Linked DNA regions of Homo sapiens: all the other regions are reported to be linked to region 2. The links are microRNA targets in miRTarBase. Many come from high-throughput screens and were not tested one by one. Region 2 holds a microRNA gene; each other region holds the end of a gene's coding sequence.
The links. The annotated mature microRNA hsa-miR-148a-3p reads UCAGUGCACUACAGAACUUUGU and lies in region 2 at 3,096-3,117, shown strand. An mRNA with a match to its seed (bases 2 to 7 or 8) in the 3' UTR can be bound and repressed. Matches are read on the target gene's strand: a 7mer-m8 pairs with bases 2 to 8, a 7mer-A1 pairs with bases 2 to 7 and ends in A, and an 8mer does both.

Region 1 (4,162 bases), not on the chromosome of region 2:
TCCTTTGTGGGTGGAGTCATCGGCCTCATTTTTGCATACATTTGCTACAGACAGCACTATCCTCCTCTGGCCAACACAGCTTGCCATAAACCCTACGTTAGTCTGCGAGTCCCAGCCTCACTGAAGAAAGAGGAGAGGCCCACAGCTGACAGCGCACCCAGCTTGCCTCTGGAGGGGATCACCGAAGGCCCGGTATGACCAGTGTCCTGGGAGGATGGACACTAAGCCCTGGGCACATCTGCCACCCTGACATCATAACACAATAGAAATGGTTTTCTGTAGTGTATTTTTCATCAGTTGTTTCTCAAAGTCATCGTACTTCTGCTTCTGTTTCACTGATGGTGTTCCTGCTACTTTAAATGTCTACTTCCAACATCCTTGAATTTGCAAGTGAAGGACAACAATCTCTGAGAGACGTGTGGAAGAGGCTGTGAAGGTGGGGTTTGGGGAGCTTGGCCGATTCGTCTATCTGAAATGTTTGCTGTAACAGCCACCTTCCTATGTTTTCATGGTTGTAAAACATAATAAAACCTCCCACGTGGAAGACTTGGTGTTGGCCACCCAGCGCAACAAGTCATTTGGAGATGCAGCAGGTTTCTCAGAGACCCAAAGCCAGCTCTGTCTGTAGGTCATTCCAGGTGCTGAGCTTGGAAGCAAAGGCTCAGAACCTTTCTGAGCCATCAGCTTCTCATAGCCCACGTCTCTAAAATAGATTTGAAACTTGGAGTGACAGCTTGAGCATTTCCAGGGCTTTTGAATCATTGAATCTGGAAGCAAATAAAATTAATAACTTCATGCACAGACTTCCACCAAACACAATGAGCATGAAGATGCATGAGTGCATGTGTGGGGGATGAGGTCACAGCAGTTGCCTGAGGGTTCATGGGCACAATATCCTTCCCATCTTCCAGTCTAAGTTTATGGAGCCACTTCTGTAGCTCTGCCTCATACAGTGAATTTTTGGGGCACGGGGGCTTTACTTGGCTCTTCTGCAAGAAGTGATGTGACCGATCTCACAGATCAGAAACCGCATGCCTGGGGCTCATCTCAAGGGAGTGGCTGAGTGGCCATTGGGGATAAGAAGCAACTTCAGGCTGAGAATTTTTCCCCTTTAGGATCTGAGTTTTGCAGAGCTCTGCTCTAAGGATTCTCCAAGTGGTGGTGTGTTCCTGTTCCTATCTAGCTGGCAATATTTCAGCATGATAGGACTCTGGTAGAAGGTACAAGAACAGAATCAGGAATGTGCTGTGTCTCTCGCTCAGCTCTTTGCATTGTTGAATACAGCCAGTCAATATGAACCTTTTTCAGTCTGAGTATAGAGCACGCTGCTCCTTGGCCAGCTAGTTTTTTCAAGGCAAGGAGCATCCCCTTCATCCAATTCTGATTGGATGTACCATGTGGTTGTTCAGATTCCTGGGCCTGGGTGCTACGAGGTGATGCATCTTTGCTATCCAGAGTGTCACTTTTTTTTTTTTTTTTTTGAGATGGAGTCTCGCTGTGTCGAGACTGCACTGGAGTGCAGTGGCGTGATCTTGGCTCACTGCAACCTTTGCCTCTGGGTTCAAGCTATTCTCGTGCCTCAGCCTCCCAAGTAGCTAGGACTACAGGTGCCCGCCACCACACCTGGCTAATTTTTGTATTTTTAGTAGACACGGGGTTTCACCACGTTGGCCAGGCTGGTCTCGGACTCCTAGCCTCAAGTGATCTGCCCACCTCGGCCTCCCAAAGTGCTGGGATTATAAGCGTGAGCCACTGCACCTGGCCAAGAGTGTTGCTTTTGGGCAGTTAGCATAACAGACTGCATTTTGAGAGACTCAGGTGGCTGCCTAAATGGTCAGCTTATCAGCCCTGGGCTGCGTGTGCAAGTTAGAAGCATCAGAATATCTTTGATCAGCCATTTCTGTTAAGCTCCATGGGCTTAAGCTTGGAGTGCATGTACCACTGACTATGCTCCATGAGCCCCAGTGCAGCCCTCTCCAGCCCTGGTCCTTCCAAACTGGCTTTGGCACGGTCATGTGATTGTCCCCTGGATGGAGTGGGAGAGGGGGAGGCTTGAATTGACTTTCATCCAAAGTCAAGCCATTGATTTTTTAAAAATTATAGCAGTTACATTGGCAAGCAACTTTGAAGATGAATGTGAGATATTTTAAGAGATAAATCATAGCAATTGAAAAGACATAATTTTAAATTCTGAGCTAAAATTCATTTAAAATTAGAAAATTAAACAATACTCTAATTTAACTAAAAACTCTATAATTTTCAAAAATAAAGCCCAAAATAGAAATGTAGGAAAAAGATCCTTTGCTACTGTTAAAAAAAAAAACCCCATCCTGATGTGGCCCACATTCTTATTTGATTCTAGTTTTATCTGAGCAAGAGGAAAGGAAAAGGGTTGTACTTCAGTTAATAAAGACTTAAAATTCTGGACCATCAAGTGTAAATTTAATATAAATAATTTTATTTAAAGATAAATGGCCAGGAAGTACTCTGCAAAGTAACAACAGAGTATTACTAATGCTGATAATTACATGGAAAATCCTAATACTGGCCATGTAAAAGCTTTGATTAAAATATAATTCAAATTACAGATGATGTAATAACATGAAGCTGGTGGTAGGATCCTCAGGAGCCATAATGAACAGTGTAAGCCAGTTCACAAAAGGCAGGCATTTTTACAGATCCTTATGTTTCAATTTCATGCTCTATTCACGTGAAGTAAATATAACATCACAGTGTACCAATTAAATGGCCATAATGAGAACGTTTATTCCTCAACCCCTGATTTTTTTTTGGATGTGGGGTTCCTAATTCAGTCTCTTTGGAAAAGCAGGTTACACACAGTGTGAAGAGTCCGAGCCCACCCTGGGAGCTGTGGGATGTCGGAATTTCTTCCTCTTTGAGTAAACTTACTCAGAGTCCATGTTAGAGATCGGCAGCCACAAGCTCAGATACCTTGAGGTACTAGGAAGAGAATACAGTGAATGAGGCAAGTGGGGTCATTAAGGAATAGTGGAGACTGTGGAAGACTAAAAGCACACACCCCAGGGAAGTGGTGCTGGAGTGCAGTGGCGCGATCCCTGCTCACTGCAAGCTCGGCCTCCTGGGTTCACGCCATTCTCCTGCCTCAGCCTCCTGAGTAGCTGGGACTACAGGCACCCACTGCCATGCCCGGCTAATTTTTTGTATTTTTTAGTAGAGACAGGGTTTCACTGTGTTAGCCAGGATGGTCTTGATCTCCTGACCTCATGATCCGCCTGCCTCGGCCTCCCAAAGTGCCTGGATTACAGGTGTGAGCCACAGCGCCCAGCCCAAACACATATTCCCCCAAGAGAAGTCAAGAATCTTCATTTTATATGAGATTGTTTGATTTTACCTTGGGCAACTGTTTCCATTGAGATACATTAGAATGCAACCAACAATACACCCCAGTGAAAGAAGCTTAATCAGTAGGGGTTTATTAAGATTAAAAATAATAAGAAATTGAGAGGTTGGTGGTCTCAAAGCCCCCAGGCTTTCCCATGCTCTTGCTCCACCATCTTCAGTATGCCAGTGATTCTCCCTCATGATCACAAGGTGGCTGCAGCATCTCCAAGAATCACATCCTCATCCCATCATGCTCAAACGAAGAAAGAAAGGAGCCCAGTCATGTGACAAGATAACTCTACTTGTCGGTCTGTTTATCAGGGAAGAAAATGTTTCCCAGCACCCCTGAGAAATATCCCCTTTACTTGCATTGGCTAGAATGATGTTGGATGGCCACCCCCAGAAGTCATGGGGGCTTGGAAGAGTGAATATCCAGCATTTTCAGTCTCTTTGCAGGAGAAAGATTCTACCTGCTTGGGAAAAGGGTTAAACAATGGCCATTGGGTTGACAATGAACAGCATCTGTGACAGCACCAAACTTGTTTAATTAAAACACAAAAATGGCACATCAGTCACATAAAAATGTAGAGCAGGCTGTTTGCAGTCTCCTTTAGGGCTCACATGTCTTCTTAGTGGGTTAGAATTTGAGCAGAAGAGCCAGCTCTTTAGTCAATCTATTTAGCCCTATTGAATTGCCCTTCTCCTAAAGAGCTTTTCTAGCTAAAGCCATGGTCCTTGTTGTCTGGGCATACTCCATCTTCCTGAAGCTTCTGGCACGTTCCCCTCAGCTTTACCATTT
Region 2 (5,483 bases):
GTTCGTCTGCTACCCAACAGTAGTAAGGTTACCTCATCCTGGAATCTGATGTACACAACGGTATGCAAACTCTTTCCTTCTCTCCGAAGCAAACAATGAAATGGGAAAACACTGCCATTTTCTGACTGACCTCAATCGCTGAGGGTGGACCCCGCACGTTACATCAGCAGGCTGGCTCCATTACACTGCCCTGCGCTGTGCTCGAGCTACTGAAATATTGATTTTTACAGAGCCGGCGCACACACACTGAAAAATCAATATTCCAGTGCACACAACAGAACAGGCAGCAGAGCGGGGACAAACTCCGAGCCCCAGCAAGCACTGCCGCCGGGCCTTGACCGAGGAGGGGGTGGGGGGCTGGAGGAGACAATGCCTGGGGAGAGGCCCCTGCAAACCCGCGAATGGTCAGATAAACAAACAAGTGTGGAGAGGGAAGAGAAAGGAGAGTGGAGAGAAAGATCCTTGAGGATAAAACAGTTGGAAGGAGCAATGATTTATCTTTCCATAGGGGGAAATGGGGAGAAGGAAAGTAAATTAAGAAGAGTGGATGGGAAGAATTTTCCAGGTAAGAATCTTCCCATAAAAATGTATGTTTTTCTGTATCACCAGGTCAGACTTCAGATGCAACCATTATAAAGATGATACACATACTTTGTTACCTGAGGGAAAAAATAACTAGGCCAGTTCTCAGAAATATTTATATTTTTTAAAATGCAGTCCCCTTCTTTTTCCTTGGTGACTACAGGCCGGCATCAGAGAGTCCGATTTATAACATGGGCTCTACCTTTGCAATGCAGTTACTTTCTTTTCCTTGGGGAGAGGGAAGGAAGGAAGACATCCTGGTCACGTGGCCATTCATCAATTTCCCTTTCTTTCTAGAACAGCATCTTCTTTGGCGTGCTTGGGGAACCACGTTAAAATTGATTCTACGTGCCCGTGACCTCTTCTCAGGGAATTCTGAGCTCCCCCGAGTCACACCCCCATCTAGATGAGGAGAGGAGGACGTGTCCCCTGGTTCAGTCTCGGGTGCCCAGTACCCAGCAGACGTCAGGGTGGAGGCAAACCGGCCTTTCGGTTAGTCCTTGTAGACGTGTTAAAAAAAAAAATCCAGAACTGGCATTTTTACTACTTTTAGTTAGCTCTTTGGCCTCTTTTTATTTGGGGATGGGTGGTGGGCAGTTTATTAAAAGAAACGACTTTTAACCTTGATGAATTCTTGATTTTGCTTTGTCCTAGAATTCCCTTACCGGGAATCTCGCATTTAGTTCTCAACTCCCTGCCAGGGGAGGAAACTGTCCTCCCGAGGTTTCCATTTCGCACTCTGCCCTGCAGCAGCTTCGCCGCCGCCTCCTCCCCAGCCAGGAGACACCGGGCCCAGGCAGGGCTCCGGCTGGGTTTGGAGGAGGGGGCTCCGGGGAAAGCGGGCATTCAGGGGCATCTTGCAAAACGCGGGCTCCCTGGGCCCAGCGGGGCTGGCCGGGGACAGCGCCCGGCCCGAGTGTCGCGGGAAGCGGAACAGGCAGCCTGGCAGAGGCTGGTGGGCAGAAGGGCGGGGCGGGACGTCGAGCCAGGTGGCCACCTGGAGCGCCCCGCCCTCCCAGCGCCGGCCGCGCCCCCGCCCCCGCCCCCACGCGCCACCGCCCACCCCGCCCCCGCCCCCAGCCCCGCGCGGCCGCTCTATTTGCATAAGGAGGCGTCTCCCGGGCCCGCCCGGGGCGCACGTGACCCCGGGGGAGGCGGAGGGAACCTGCTGACTTGACACGAGCCGCTGTGCGGCTCCCCTTGGCGCGGAATAGCGAGAGCAGCCGTGACCTCCGACCCCGCCCGCCGGCAGCCAATAAGAGCGCAGGTCGTCTCCAAACCCAAAATTTCCACGTCGGCAAAAGTCAAGATGGAAGGGAGCGGAGCGGAGCGCGAGGGGGGAGCCGGCCCGGGAATGCCTGGCGGCCGGCGCTGGAGGGGCAGGCTGGGGAGCCTGCGGCGGGCGCACGAGGGGCCACTCGCGAAGGTGTCCCGGCCCAGCGCGACCACCGCCCCCAACCCCGGGAGCCTCTGGGCGCCCCGCACTCCGCCAGCCGCCCGTGCACCCCGGCCCGGGGGACGCAGCCCACTGCCCCTCCGGCCTTGTCTCTTAGGGGTGGCGGGGGATGGAACGGTGGCGAGGGGTTTGGGGGAAGATGGGAAAGCACTTTCCAGACCTGTTGCACGCGCGCAACAGCTGTTCAGGTGCGGTATGTGGGGGGAGGGGGTCTGCTAGGATGGGGGACAGAGTGGTCGCTTATGCTGCAGGGAAAAGGGGGTGCCGGGAGGGGGAGAAGAGCAGTCTTGGGGACTGTGTGCAAGGTTGTGCGCGAACGGGGTCCGCGGGAAGCACTGCCTAATGGGGCAGGGAGAATCCCAAAGAGTGGGTGGGTGGAACGGAGGGGATGGGACGACTTCGACCCGAGTTCCCGGGGCTGGGCGCGGGCGGCTGGAAGACCGGGAATAGAGTACTGGGAATGGCTGGGGAAGGGGGTCTCAGGGGAGGCCCCGCAAAGCGGGTCTTTCTTGGGTCGTCCCATCTTAGGGGCTTTTCCCGGGCCTGTATTTGTTCCCCACCGTTTAACTCTTTCAGCTCCGAATATTCGTCCTCGTGCAGCGCCCCCGCCCCCAGCTTTCCAGATGGGAAGGTAAAAAGTTGCCACAAGTTAGAGTGAGTTAGCTGCTGGCAAAAGTTTAAATAACTACCGAGGGAGGTGAGGGTTCGACCAGGAATGGGTTCTAATCTGAGGACGGGTAGGAAGGAAGGAGAGTGTGCGATTCTTGCAGCCCCTTTGCTGTGACATTGCGACCAGAATTTGTCGAATCGGGCTGTTAAAACACCATTTCTGTTGGGCATTTGCTCCTGCTGACTGCGGCAGTAACTTTCCATAATTAATGACCCGTTCCATTATCGGTCGCATCCTGAACTAAATTGCTTTTAACGAGTTATTCTTCTTTGTCTTAGCTGGGGGGTGGGGGAACACACCTGCAGGAAGAAACTTCTGGAGGAAGACAGCACGTTTGGTCTTTTGAGGCAAAGTTCTGAGACACTCCGACTCTGAGTATGATAGAAGTCAGTGCACTACAGAACTTTGTCTCTAGAGGCTGTGGTCGCCGATGCCGCCAGTGCTCCAGACGCCAGGCCGAGTGGCCCTGGTGGCCACGTCGCTGCGCCTTTCCCTTGGGGGAGGGGCAAGGCCAGAGGGGGTCCAAGTGCAGCACGAGGAACTTGACCAATTCCCTTGAAGCGGGTGGGTTAAACCCTGTAAATGGGAACAAAATCCCCCCAAATCTCTTCATCTTACCCTGGTGGACTCCTGACTGTAGAATTTTTTGGTTTAAAGAAGAAAAAAATAAAGCTTTGGACTTTTCAAGGTTGCTTAACAGGTACTGAAAGACTGGCCTCACTTAAACTGAGCCAGGAGAGCTGCAGATTTATTAATGGGTGTGTTAGTGTGCAGTGCCTTGCAGGAATTTAAACTCTCTACCCTTAAAGAAGGAAATGTATTTGTACAAAAGCCACAGATAATGGTCCTTTTACTCAAGCGACCTGCTGGATAAATGACAGCCTGCAGGGATTGAGTTTGGAGATCTAGTCTCAATTCTGCTTCCGATTTAGATGCAGTTCACTTTTGTTTTTTAAAGTAAGTTTTATTAATGGAAAGGAAGAACTTTTTCCAAGAAAGCATTTTGAAAGCCACTGGGGGAGGGGGACATTTATGCTTTTGGGCTGTGGAGATCCTTTAGGTGGAGAGACTGCTCTCTCATCCCTAGTGGAATGGAGGTTTGGGTTGGTGAGTTTCTATCAATAGCCTGCTCTCTATAGTGGGTCAGTGACTGGCACCAAATTGTAGTCCTGTTCCATGGACATTGCCCTGTTTTGGTTTTATGAGCTTTTGGCCAGGCACAGGACGCAGGGTGGTAGGGAAAAAAGGAAATGGTTCCTGTGCCCGTGGTGCTGACAGGTAAGGGAAGGGCCTTCTGATGTATTTTATGGGATGCTTCAGAAACCTGGGGGTTGCTTGTGTCTCTGGGAAGCCCTTGGTAAAGAAAGCCACCATTTTTTTTACTTAGGTATATTCCAGTGGTTTATCATCGGGAGAGGGATGATAATGGAGGAAGGCTCAATGAGGGAGAAAGTATTCAGCTGCTTGATGTTAGAGCTTAATGGCAGGACCTACCAGTTGCTTTTCACAGAAATGCTGTGTATTGATCCTAAGGCAGCATGTGTTCTCTTTTGTGTGGCCATTATCCATTCTCCCACTTTTCCATCAGTGACTGCTTTGCTTTTGTTCCTCAATCCTTTACCCAAAAATGGCTGAATTATTTCTGTGCAGTTAAATAAAGTGATCCAAACTCAAGTACGTCTTGTGTTCATTTGAGATGTAAGGTATGCTTACTTGAGGAAGAGGATTCTCTTTCCTAGTTCTTATGTCTGTACATCTCCACAAGATAGTCTGAATATACTGAATTTTAAGAAAACTTAAATCAACTTTGTAAGAGAATGGGAGGTAAAGAGTGGAGCGGTTGACTGGGAGAGTAGTCATCCATACAAAGGAATTAGGTCAGGATCTCTCACCTCCAGAGAAAGGCAAGGTTTGGAGTCCCTGACATGATTCAGTCTGGTTTGACTTCTATGCTTAAGTGATTTGCATTTCTCCTGTTTGTGACCACAAGTGAGTTAAGGACTAACCAAGCAGGAGGGCTGTGGTTTACTCTGGTGCTAAGGATGCCAGGAATAGGAACTGGGAAAATCGGCAGTCTTGGGGTGCTTACTGTAAACCTGGCATGGTCTCATAGACCTCAGTCGTTTAGCAATCAGTGTATTTTCACCTCCCGAGCATCAGGTGTTACTCTAGACGTTACGAATGCAACAGTGAACAAAATAGGCCCCGAACCCTGCCCTCTTGGAGGTCTTTCTCATGCAAGAGGTAGACAATACAAATATAAAATAATCAGAAGGGTGATAAACGTCAGGGAAGGAAGAACAAGGAACGCTGGGGAGGCCGTGGTGTTCATTTAACCCAGATCGCTGGGCAAAGGAAACCATCACTAGCAACCTACTTTGCATGGCCTTGGCACTCCTGTCTTTATTTTAGATACTTTATGTGAATGAACCAAACAGGTGCAGCTGAAACTTTAGTCATGCATTGCTTAATGATGAGGATAGGTTCTGAGAAACGTGGTGTTAGGCGATTTCATTGTTTTTGCAAACATCACAGAGTGAGTGTTCTTAAACCTGGGTGGTAGAGACTACCACACACTTAAGCTGTATGCCATAGCCTAGTGCTCCTGGGCTACAAACCTGTGCAGGATGGTACTGTACTGAGTGCTGTAGGCAAATGTAACACAATGGTAAGGATTTATTTAACCGTACAAAAGGTACAGTAAAAATACAATATAAAATGTAAAAAATGTTACACCCATATGGGACACTTAGCATGCATGGAGCTTGTGGGACT
Region 3 (4,162 bases), not on the chromosome of region 2:
CTGTAAAATGTAAATGTGGATATGGCTTGGATTACTAAGTGGTTTTATTTCTTCATTCACCTGACATTTGTTGTGTACCTGCTGCAAGTCAAATACATGGTATGATATTGTTTCCTTGTTCACACCACAGCAAATGAGAAAATGAGACATTATAGCCAGGTGTGGCGGCACAGGCTTCTCGTCCTAGCTACTCAGAAGGCTGAGGCAGGAGAATTGCTTCAGCCCAGGAGTTTGAGGTTACAGTAAGGTCTGATATCACCATTGCATTTCAACCTGGGCAACAGACCCTGTCTCTGAAAAAAAGGAAAAAGACACTGTGAGCTGTCTACATGTACTCTATGTCTCAGGAGACTCATGTGCTGTAATTTTTCTAAATGGCATCTCCATGTGGTCTTTCATGAATGTTTGTCTGGTATTTCTTTTCTATCTTTTTACTTTCAACTTTTCTGTACCTTCTACTGAAATTATGGCTTTTGTAAATAGCCTACGGTTATTTATTTATTTACTTATTTATTTTTATCCCTCTGCACTATTTGTCTTGTAATTGGAGTGTCTGAGTCCATTACGTTTAATGTCATTGTTGACCTCATTGGGTTTAAGTCTGTCCATTTTCATTTACTGCCTTCTAATATTATCTTTCTTGCTCAACTATTTTTCTTCTGTTGCCTTCTTTAGATGAATAAAAAACTTTGCATTATTGTGGTCTTCTCAGTAAGTGTTCTAGTTACAAATTCTCTTATTATTTCTTTAATTATCTGAGAAAGCACAATAATCTGTGACTTATTATAACCAACAGCAGACCATAACTTCCCTGACTTTCACCTACCTGTGCAGACAGCACAGGGGAGAATCAATGCTCTGGCTCTGAGACACAGGGGTGGTGGAAGTAGGATAGTGATTGGATGATGAATCTGTAGCTGCAGAGGCATCTGGGCCCCTCACCTTCATTCCTCGTAGATGTCACCTCCACTGGATGCCTGCAATGCCCTCTCCTCTGTATGCTCCTGCCAGAGTCTCCCCATCTCCATTGACAGCAGCTCCACCCTTCTGCTCACTCAGTCCAATACTGTGGGTGTCCTTGATTCTTCTTTCTCACACCACAGATAAATCCATTAGCAAGTGCTGTGAATTCATCCAGAATCCCATCACTTCCCACTATTTCCCCTGCTCACACCCCAGTCAAGGTAAGCGACGTCTCCATCCTGGAATACTGCACTCCTTTCCCACCGTTTTTCCCACTGCCTCACTAGTCCCCCACCTCTCAATTCTGTTCTCAGCACAGCAGCCAGAGAGAAGCTTTCAAAGGATAAGTCCTACCATGTCCCACTTTCCAAAACTGTCCTCTAACTCCCCATGTCATTCAGAGCAAAGGTCAACATCCTTCCCACACCCTCCAGGGCAACCTGCTCTGGGCACACCTCTGACTTCATTTCAGTTTCTCTCTGTTCAACACTTCTGGCCTCTTCCTCCTTCCAGGAACACAGACAATTTCCTGCCCTAGTGCATCTGCACTGAAGGTTTCCCTGCCTGAAAAGAACTTTCTGAGACATCCGTGTAGACAACTCCTCACATCCCTCAAATCTTTACTCCAAGGTCACATTTGCAACAAGGCCCATGCTGACCACCCAGCACAACAGCCACCTCCCTGTACCCACAGCCCACCCTCTGGATCACCTGCCACACAGCACTTGCCACCTTCTAACTCAAGCATTTTCTGTTCCTACTCTGCTTATACTATATCATCTGCCTGCAGAGGTGTCCAATCTTTTGGCTTCCCTGGGTCACATAGGAAGAAGAATTGTCTTGAGCCACACAAAAAATACACTAATGACAGCTGATGAGCAGAAAAAAATAGAAAAAAGAAAAAAAATGCATGGATAATTTTCATGATATCTGCCACTACAGATAAGCAAAAAAATCGTCACATTCTAAAGCTGTCCTGGGCCACATGCATCCCGAGAGCTGCAGGTTGGACAAGCTTGCATCTAGAATGTATACACGACAAGGCCAGAAATTTTTCTGTTTTTACTTTAACGATGTTTTCTAAATGCAAAAACAGTCAAATACCTAGCAGACAACAAATGCCACTTGAATGGATGATTACTGTAGTGCGCCCCCCTATTCTAAAGGCAATATCTTTATTAATGTAGACTCAGGCCAAATGTCATTTTGTAGCCGCTGTGGAACAATATTATCTCATGTGGATATAAATGCACCAGTGCTTTTCTCACCAGGGCTGCTTTTGTGTCCTCCCTCCCTCCCTCCTCCCACACCAATCCTCCTGCACACTGCAGCACACAACCATATTTGTCTCTTGAGGAAAGATAACCCAAGGCTTATGGCTCCAATTATCCAACCACATATGAATCTAAATTAGACTCTGCTTTACAAATCCATGAGTTTGGTTTGGAGCCAGCAATAGGATTACTACAACTCAGGGCAGGAAGAAGAGTAGGAGAGAGAGCAGAAGAGGAGTTCCAACAGAAAGTAAACTACAATGAAAAACTCTGGGACCTCTCCTCTCGGGAAGTTTCAGAATCTGCTTCCTTTAAGAAGGTTGGGGAAGCCAGGCATGGTGGCTCACACCTGTAATCCCAGCACTTTGGGAGGCAGAGGCGGGCAGATCACAAGGTCAGGAGATCAAGACCATCCTGGCTAACATGGTGAAATCCCGTCTTTACTAAAAATACAAAAAATTAGCTGGGTATTGTGGCATGTGCCTGTACTCCCAGTTACTAGGGAGGCTGAGACAGGAGAATTGCTTGAACCCGGGAGGTGGAGGTTGCAATGAGTTGAGATTGCACCACTGCACTCCAGCCTGAGTGAGGCTCCATCTAAAAAAAAAAAAAAAAAAAAAGATGGAAAATACAATTGAAAGAGACCTGGAAGGAGGGGAAGAGGTGTAGGGGTCTGAAAATTTTTCTTCTGATAACACAGGAACTTCTACGTGTAGGGACCATCCTAGGTGATATCCAAGTCTATGTGATCACAGGTCCTGGTGGGACAAGGTTCTACTGAAGGGCCAAGGACAATGGAGCAGCAAAGATGACCCAGCTGAGCAGTGACCACATAAAGTTCATGGTGGCCTGAGCACCCACTGGGCGCAGCCCCATCTACTCTCCTCTCCTGCAACAAATCAGCACAAGAAACACGTGTACTGTGGAAAGTTCTCATGTCTTCCATTTATTTTGTCTCTCAAATTTCAGGAATCTTCTCCTTTAATTAACCCATCAATCTCTCTTGGAAATAATTTGAAAAAGTAAATTTATACTCAGATTCTAATTTTAATACAGAAGTAAGTTATAGCTCAGTGGACCACAAATTTGAGACAGAGACGGAGACATCCCAGCCCCTTTTCTGGAACAGGAAAGGTGATTGGGGAAGGAATGCAGTTCAGCATGAGGAAGAGGGTCATGGTGGGCACAGGGGTGGGCTGGTCTCTGCACAAAGAGGAGTCAGGGTTCTTGAAGTCACAAAGGGACTTGCCACTCAGTCCCACACAGGGCAGCTGTTTCACACTACAGAAAAATATTCATGAACAAATTCATATCAGTCACAGTGAGGGGTGACACTTTAAACAGCCCATCACATGCTCAATACATTGAAGTCAAAGAAACCTCATAGCACAGCTATGTCCCCTGTTCCCCTCAACAACCCACACACATCAGGCCCCCCGGGGTGTCACATTTACAAGCCGTGAGAGACACATTAGAGCCCTGGGCACTGTCACTGCCTAGAGTAGAACAAAAACAGCACCTGGTCAGAGACCACAGGAGATGTGGCCAGAGGAGGAATTGTGGGGTGGGTGAGCTCCCCCATGGGCTCCCAAACACAAGATCCCAAGGATCTCAGGGATCAGCCTCCTTCATACTTACTTGCAGCCTGAGAGTAGCTCCCTCCTTTTCAATCTGTGGGAAGAAAATGTCCTGTGAGAGGCCAGAAAGGTGGCAGGGCCATGAGGTCCTAGAGGAACCTCCTAGTCTTGGACCCTCGAGAAGTTTCCAGAAATGTGTGACTGCAGACCCAGGGCGGGATCAGGAAAAACAAGGAAAGCAGATGTGGGTCCTCGACCAACTGCCCTCCTAAGGTCTGTCCTTAGCCAGGGACCTTCTCCTGACCTGTGATTACTGGGATCAGGTCCCCATCACTACAATCATCAAGG

Region 1: miRTarBase lists PLPP4 as a target of hsa-miR-148a-3p. Seed matches in the 3' UTR shown: 7mer-m8 at 1,508-1,514.
Region 3: the mRNA of HLA-G is a reported target of hsa-miR-148a-3p. The part of its 3' UTR that is shown has no 7-base or 8-base seed match.

Annotation. Positions count from the first base shown.
Region 1 is chr10:120,589,305-120,593,466 of GRCh38, forward strand. PLPP4 (phospholipid phosphatase 4) reads left to right here. Exons shown (of 7, transcript NM_001030059.3): 7 at 1-2,761. The coding sequence ends at 198. Among named protein-coding and RNA genes, the nearest start is that of LINC01561, 6.6 kb to the right of the region's middle.
Region 2 is chr7:25,947,556-25,953,038 of GRCh38, reverse strand. MIR148A (microRNA 148a) reads left to right here and starts at 3,053; the gene lies at 3,053-3,120. All of the region lies in intron 6 of LOC105375199 (a long non-coding RNA gene), which reads left to right. RefSeq lists silencers at 1,280-1,489, 1,610-1,829, 1,960-2,099 and an enhancer at 4,943-5,012.
Region 3 is chr6:29,830,124-29,834,285 of GRCh38, reverse strand. It overlaps HLA-G (major histocompatibility complex, class I, G), which reads right to left. Exons shown (of 7, transcript NM_001384290.1): 6 at 3,876-3,908; 7 at 3,265-3,518. The coding sequence ends at 3,904. It also overlaps the pseudogene HCGVIII-2. Among named protein-coding and RNA genes, the nearest start is that of HLA-G, 4.4 kb to the right of the region's middle.